Homo sapiens: one gene and its partner. The protein of the gene in region 2 purifies or fractionates together with the protein of the main gene of each other region. This does not show direct contact. Each region holds a gene or a part of one and is shown on either strand. Other genes may lie near its edges. The genes, in order: DGKE and GRK4.

Region 1 (3,826 bases), on a different chromosome or scaffold from region 2:
GAAGGTTAAATCACTTGCCTGTGATTGTCCAGGTAATTAAGTGCTGAAATACAAGGCTAGGTGTGGTAACTCATGCCTATAATCCCAGCACTTTGGGAGGCCAAGGCGGGTGGATCACTTGACGTCAGGAGTTCGAGACCAGCCTGGCCAACATGGTGAAATCCTGTCTTTACTAAAAATACAAAAATTAGCCAGTGTGGTGTTGTGTGCTTGTGATCCTAGCTACTCGGGAGGCTGAGGTAGGAGAATCACTTGAACCTGGGAGGCAGAGGTTACAGTGAGCCAAGATCATGCCCCTGCACTCCAGCTTCGGCAACAAAGCAAGACTCTGTCTCAAAAAAAAAAAAAAGTTATAGTTTATCTACTATACCACATTGCCTCCTTCTTGTTCACATAAACCACAATGTGCTAAGTTCACCTTTAATTAGTGTTTCATATCTTATACTGGCTTAAAAAAAAATCACCAGTGCAACTTAGCACAAATTTCTGGAAAGCAATTTTGCAATACATAGAAAATGACATAAAAATGCAAGTAACTTTGATTATCCATAATTCTGTCAACGACCCTAGAAAAATATTTCGAAAGACAAAAATGCCTAAAAATATGTATAAAAATATTCACTGTGGCATTATTTATAGTACAATCATAGAGACAGTGTTACCTTTCAACAGTAGAGACTGGATAAATAATGCTATTTCCATTCAATTATTTTAGTCATTAAATATGTAACTATGAGGACTATGTTGAAACAAGGAAAAATATTTATACCATTAAAATTAAAAAAATCAGAATGCAAATTTGTATCTAGATTATTGTTATAGTACTGTTAATATGTAAAGTAAATGCATAGATAATTAATGGAAAGAACAAGAAAAAAGAGAACTGATGTATTTGTATGGAGAAATTGCAAATGATTTTCTCTGTATTTTTTATAATTTTCTTAAACTGTATAATATTGAAAGTGTAAAAAATACAAATTGGAAGGACAAAGTTATTGCACTTCTAATTGCTACACAATGGGTTGTCTTTAAAATTTTTTTGTATTTTTTTGTTTTTTGGTTAATTTTTCAAAGTAAAATTATATTCAATTTTAACGATCCCTTTTATTTTTAAAACTGAGGTATAATTTACATATAAGATTCACCCATTTGAAGTGAACAAGTCAATAATTTTTATTAAGTTCACTGAATTGCACAACCACCACCATCATCCAGTTTAGAACATTTTTGTTGCTTCAATAAGATCCCTCAATGTCCATTCGCAATCACTCCCCATTTCCAGCCCTAGAACCAATAATCTATTCTCTACCTCTACAGACTTGCCTTTTCTAGACAAGTCACATAAGTGGAGTCATACAATATAAGGTCCCTTGTATCTGCCTTCTTTCACTTAGTATGTTTTTGAGGTTCATTTATTGTAATATATACGTATCAGTAGTTTGTTCCTTTTTGTCATTTCATGGTATTCCATTGTAGGGCTACATCACATTTTGTTTATCAACTCATCAGCTGATGAACAGCTGGGCTGTTTATGCTTTTCAGCTATCATGAATAATGCTGCTGTGAACATTTTCATGCAAATGTTTGTGAGAAATATGTTTTCACTTCCCTTGGGTAGATTCCTAGTAGAGGACTTGCTAGAAGATATAATAAATTTATATTTATCTTTTTAAGAAACTGCCAAGATGTCTTCTAAAGAGGTTGTACCATTTTATATTCCCACAAGAGTGCCTGTTTATCCACATATTTAAATGGCTGATCTTTTTGTAATTATTATTCTTTCCTATGATCAGGTGATTAGTGACTTGAAGCATTAATAATCATTGCATTTTGGGGAAAATGAAAACATTAATATAAAAAGTTTTTTTCTTTAGTTACCTGGACTGGATTCAACAAGATCCTAAATTCTCCCAACAGTCCTTCTCCCATATTAGTTCCACTACGAGAGTTGGCCAGGATTATTAATGGGGTCCACTGCTTTCCAAGCTTAGAGGCTAGCTAAAAAAAATTGCCATGAGTGAAAAGGTTTAGTATCTTAAAGATGAAAAGCACATTTTCCATGCCTTGAGAACAATGGTGCTATAATTTGCTGAAATAAAAACTATACTAGTTCTCTCAATTCAATATAAAAATCAAAGAATTCTAAGAATGGAAGGGAACCTCAGAAATTAACTAATTTAAGCTCCCATTCAATGTTTAATTCTCTTCTACATTATTCTAGATAAGTCATCCAGCATATGCTCGCACACTCACATAAGGAACTCACTAGTAATGCAGCCCATTACACTGCTACATCAAATTATTAGAAAGTTTGGACTTAAACTGAGTTGAAAATCTGTCTTTCTATAACTTTCAACCATTCACAGAATAGACACTGATTTTTTTCTCTGACCTTTCACCTTGATTTTCCTTTACTGGATGTATTCTGGTGTGTTTTGCAAGGTTTTATTTCTTTTTTTAAAATGGGGTACTCAGATTAAAAAATCTGGACTTCTAATAGCTCAAAGTCAAATGAAATTAATACTTTTCAAAATGTAACCATTTCTTCTTCCCCTCTCCTTGTAGATGTAACCATTAATGAAGTTATTCTATAGTTTTACTTAGAGATTCTTCTCTCTTGTGATCTCAGGTTGAACTCAGATAAATAAGAGATTGTACATTTAAAAAAACTGTCAAAACAATATTGTTTGAAAAATTTAAAATGTCCCTTCCCTTGCAGGAATATTGACAAAGGTGGCATGTAAGTCATAAAATCTTAATTTGAAAAAGGTACAATTTTAAAATAAAATAGTTCAATTATTTTGGTATATCCAATTAGAAAATAAATCCATAAATTTTTATGATGTTTCCTTAAGAGCTACATAAAGACTGAGAGATTCAATAAGTTACATCAATTTCATACACATATCTACATCTATAAACTGTTAACAGGTTTAGTGTTCACCATTATTTGTGGGAGCATTTAATGTGCAACATAAACTTATCTCTAGGGACCCTGTATAAAGTTCAAAATAGAAAAATAGTTTTAGAAAAAGGTGTGAGGAAAATCTATTTTCTTTTCACTGACAATAATCATGAATCCCAAAACTGACTGTTCATCAGAATCTTCTGAGGACCTTAAAAAAAAAGATGAATTCCTGGACTTACCCTATACCTACTAAATCAAATATGGCAATGAAGGTACTACTCAGAAATCTGTATTTTTAAAAAGCTCCCTAAATCATTCAGATGCAGGCAATGATTTGGAAACCACTAATATAACATTTCCAATTTCCTTTTAGACATGAAAGAACTCAAGAGCCAAAATTTTTGACCCATCTCTAGGAACTAGGTAGGATTTTATGGCTTACCATAATAGCATTTTATTTCTCTCCTTGGTCTTGATCTGTTATTTAAGTTTATTTTATTCCTGGCACCAATTCTTCTTACATACTGTCTTAACTATCTCAAACAATGAGTTAAGCAGCTTTTTAAAAATCAATCATATTAGAGAAATAAACTCTAATTACCACTTCATAATCTGTTTTTTTGTCTTTACGCATCTGATTAATGGATGTTAAATAACTTGGTGGAATGATTAGGTTTTTGAATTCTCCAAAATCACATTTTTCATTCTTTAAACTATTTTTCATGCACTCATCATGTACTGTTTTCTGGCACCAAATGCACCTGAGGGAAGGAAGAAACAAGCATTAACTAATTTTAAACCATAATCTCAATGATAACCCACAAAACAATCATTTTTGTTAAAAAATAAAACATAATTTTATCACTACTTACCATAACATTTGGCAAATAAAATATATGCACTATCTGCACAGTGAAA
Region 2 (3,826 bases):
AGATTACTTCAAATATCTGACAGATAAGAAATACTAAGTTTATAACTCTTTCTAGAAAACTTGATCTTACATGCTGTTGAAAATTCTAATAGGCCGGGTGTAGTGGTTCACCCTGTAATCCCAGCACTTTGGGAGGCTGAAGTGGGAGGGTAGGATCACTTGAGTCCAGGGGTTCCAGACTAGCCTGGGCAACATAGTGAGACCCCATCTCCACAAAAACCACAAAATTATCTGTGCATGGCAGCGCATGCCTGTGGTCCCAGCCACTTGGGAGTCTGAGACAGGAGGACTGCTTGGCCCCAGAGTTCAAGGCTTTGAGGCTTCAGTAGCTATGATTTCCCCACCTGCACTCCAGCGGGGTAACAGAGTGAGACCCTGTCTTTAAAAAAAAAAAAGGCTGGGCACCATGGCTCACGCCTGTAAATCCTAGCACTTTGGGAGGCCGAGGTGGGCGGATCACCTGAGGTTGGGAGTTCGAGACCAGCCTGACCAACATGGAGAAACCCCATCTTTACTAAAAATACAAAATTAGCCGGGCGTGGTAGTGCATGCCTGTAATCCCAGCTACTTGGGAGGCTGAGGCAGGAGAATCGCTTGAACCCAGGAGGCGGAGGTTGCGGTGAGCCGAGATTGTGCCATTGCACTCCAGCCTGGGCAACAAGAGCGAAACTCTCTTTAAAAAAAAAAAAAAAGAAAAGAAAGAAAGAAAGAAAAGAAAAGAAAAGAAAATTTGGCCAGGCACAGTGGCTCACACCTGGAATCCCAACAATTTGGAAGGGCAAGGCGGGTGGATCATTTGAGGTCAGGAGTTCAAGACTAGAAAGAGCAGTCTTTTAATTTCCTCAGCTAGGGAATTTCAAAGGCAACTTTGAGGATTCTCTGCAATCGCTCCTCTATCCAGTGTCTTCTACCTTCAGCATCTCTCTGATCTCCTCTTTCCTCTCCGTTCTCCTAGCTACCCCTCTGGCCCTAGCGCATATGGCCTATGCCTGCTTACTATGTCATGTAAACAGGCCCTTGCAATGGCCCTTTGTTGGTTTCTTCTGCAGCCCTTCCCTTACTTCTCCCCCACGGTGTATGTCTTGGTGGGACTGTCATTCCAGCTGCCTGGTTCCCCCTTAGCCACGGATGCAGGAAGGGGGCCAGAGCCAAGCCAGCCAATTGGTGCTCTCTCCCAGGATAAGAATCATGAAATTCATGAGGCAAAATCAGATAAATAAAATAAAAAGATACCTGCTCTGTCACAGGAGTGACCGTGGAGACCTGATTATCAATCAGCAGCCCCCTGTCTAAAACTATCCAAAACTGCAACTACCAATGCCACCTGGGCGCTTCCTACCCCCATCCCTGCTGTAGTCTCCCGTGGCACTCACTGCTTGCTAATATGCCACACGTCTTATTTATGTGCCTCAAGACTGCCTCCCCTATAAGAATGTGGTCTCCAGAATGGCAGGAATTTCTGAACATGTTGTTTATTGCTATAGGAACAGTACCTGGAACATTCTGAGCACACATCTGCCAAATGAATGCATGAATGAATGAGTCCCACATCCTGTTCTTTCCAGACTGATTGTTAGGTTCTTACTTTGATTCTTTGAGCTACCCAATATCTTCTCCATAAATTTCCTATTTGCTTAAGTTAGCAAAAGTTCTAGGGAGGAAGCCTCAGCAAGAGACAGCATTAATAATAACAGGTATATTAACCATGCTGCAGGTGTTAAAGAAACTGCTCAATAACACCGCAGCCTGAAATCAGAACAGAATTGCAATATATAAGACCAAAACCCACATTAAATGCACGTATTACGTATTCCTCTCTGCATTTGTTTTCAATTTCTCCAAGAGATAAGACGGTGTTAAAGTCTCCTCAGAAGTATGATGTGAAATAATTTAAGCTTATTTAAAGCATAAAAGTTATAAGTTGCTTAACAAATAATATTATACAGGGAAAAAATCCTAAATTAAAAAAAAAAACAAAACAGGCCGGGCACAGTGGCTCACGCCTGTAATCCCAGTACTTTGGGAGGCTGAGGCGGGTGGATCACCTGTGATCAGGAGTTCGAGACCAGCCTGACCAACATGGAGAAACCCCCGTCTCTACTAAAAATACAAAATTAGCCAGGCATAATGGTGCATGCCTGTAATCCCAGCTACTCGGGAGACTGAGGCAGGAGAATTTCTTGAACCCGGGAGGCAGAGGTTGCAGTGAGCCGAGATCACGATTGCGCCATTGCACTCCAGCCTGGGCAACAAGAGCAAAACGACGCCTCAAAAAAAAATTGTTTTTATATTTATTAACAATATGATCTATGAACCTATGAATTATATCAAGGAAAAAAAAATAAAACAAAACACCAACAAAAACCCAATACGGGCCGGGTGCAGTGGCTCACGCCTGTAATCCCAGCACTTTGGGAGGCTGAGGTGGGCGAATCACTTGAGGTCAGGAGTTCAAGACTAGCCTGGCCAACATGGCAAAACCTTGTCTCTACTAAAAATACAAAAAATTAGCCGGGAATGGTGGGTGCCTGTAGTCCCAGCTACTTGGGAGGCTGAGGCAGGAGAATCACTTGAACCCAGGCGGCAGAGGTTGCAGTGTGCTGAGATCATACCACTGCACTCCAGCCTGGGTGACAGAGTGAGACTCTGTCTCAAAACAAAACGAAACAAAATAAGACCAAACCAATATGATCATTTCACGCTTCCTTCATGTCCCTGGCAGAGTGACACACAAACACTTTCAGTGCAGCATCATCTGCCAACATTCCTGAAAGGAAAAGGCTCTAACAATCTTCTGTTTAGACCATCTTAGTCTGTTCAAGCTGCTCTAACAAAATACTATAAACTGAGTAGCTTATAAATTGCAGAAATGTATTTCTCACAGTTCTGGAAGCTAAAAAGTCCAAGATCAAGACAGATTTGGTGTCTGGTGAGGGCCCACTTTCTGATTCATAGCTGGCATCTTCTTTCTGTGTCCATGGTAGAAGGAGTGAGGGGTGTCTCTCTAGTTTCTTTTATAAAGGCACTAATACCATTCACGAGGGTTCCACTCTCATGACCCAATCACCTCCCAAATGCCCCACCTCCTAATTCCATCCCCTTCGTAGTGAAGATTTCAACATAAGAATTTTGGGGGAACACAAATATTCAGACCATAGCAGGGACCAGAGAGGGAGGGGGGATTGAGACTGACTGATTCTATTTGAAATAAATCCAGGAAATGACCGGACTCACTAATAATATTAAATCAACATTGCGCTTCTCAGGACCAGAATATAACTCTTGTGCTACGTTCATTCATTTCAAAGGTTAATTTTCTAGTATATGAGCCAGTGAAGCTAAACAAGGAGCTGTCCATGAAGTTATGTGTCCAAGAAGACACCTCCTGGTACTTCCTGGGAGATACTTTAAAGTAACAAACACAGTCATCAACTTGGGAAAAAGCCCTAAATTATAACCAATACTCAGCATGTATCCATGTATATCTAATATTATATATTCAACTTCTCTAACCATTAATCAAGCTATACATAATGATGCTTTCTGACCACAGGAGCAAATACTCTCACTCAATGGGGACAGGCCTCATAATCACACTACTGTGGAGTTAATATGAGATATTTCAGGGAAAAAATTAAAACTTTCTTTTTTTTTTTTTTCGAGACGGAGTCTCGCTCTGTCACCCAGGCTGGAGTGCCGTGGCGCGATCTCGGCTCACTGCAAGCTCTGCCTCCAGGGTTCACGCCATTCTCCTGCCTCAGCCTCCCATGTAGCTGGGACTACAGGCGCCCGCCACCACGCCCGGCTAATTTTTGTATTTTTAGTA

The links.
Region 1: the proteins of GRK4 (region 2) and DGKE purify together in Homo sapiens (affinity purification with mass spectrometry; one large-scale study listed by BioGRID and IntAct). This does not show direct contact.

The regions. Positions count from the first base shown.
Region 1 is NC_000017.11:56,843,862-56,847,687, reverse strand, and holds part of DGKE (diacylglycerol kinase epsilon), read right to left. Parts: exon of another isoform or gene 3,789-3,826; coding exon of another isoform or gene 3,781-3,788; intron 3,670-3,780; coding exon 3,510-3,669; intron 1,999-3,509; coding exon 1,879-1,998; intron 1-1,878. UniProt on the Homo sapiens protein: Membrane-bound diacylglycerol kinase that converts diacylglycerol/DAG into phosphatidic acid/phosphatidate/PA and regulates the respective levels of these two bioactive lipids.
Region 2 is NC_000004.12:2,966,246-2,970,071, reverse strand, and holds part of GRK4 (G protein-coupled receptor kinase 4), read right to left. Parts: intron 1-3,826. UniProt on the Homo sapiens protein: Specifically phosphorylates the activated forms of G protein-coupled receptors. GRK4-alpha can phosphorylate rhodopsin and its activity is inhibited by calmodulin; the other three isoforms do not phosphorylate rhodopsin and do not interact with calmodulin.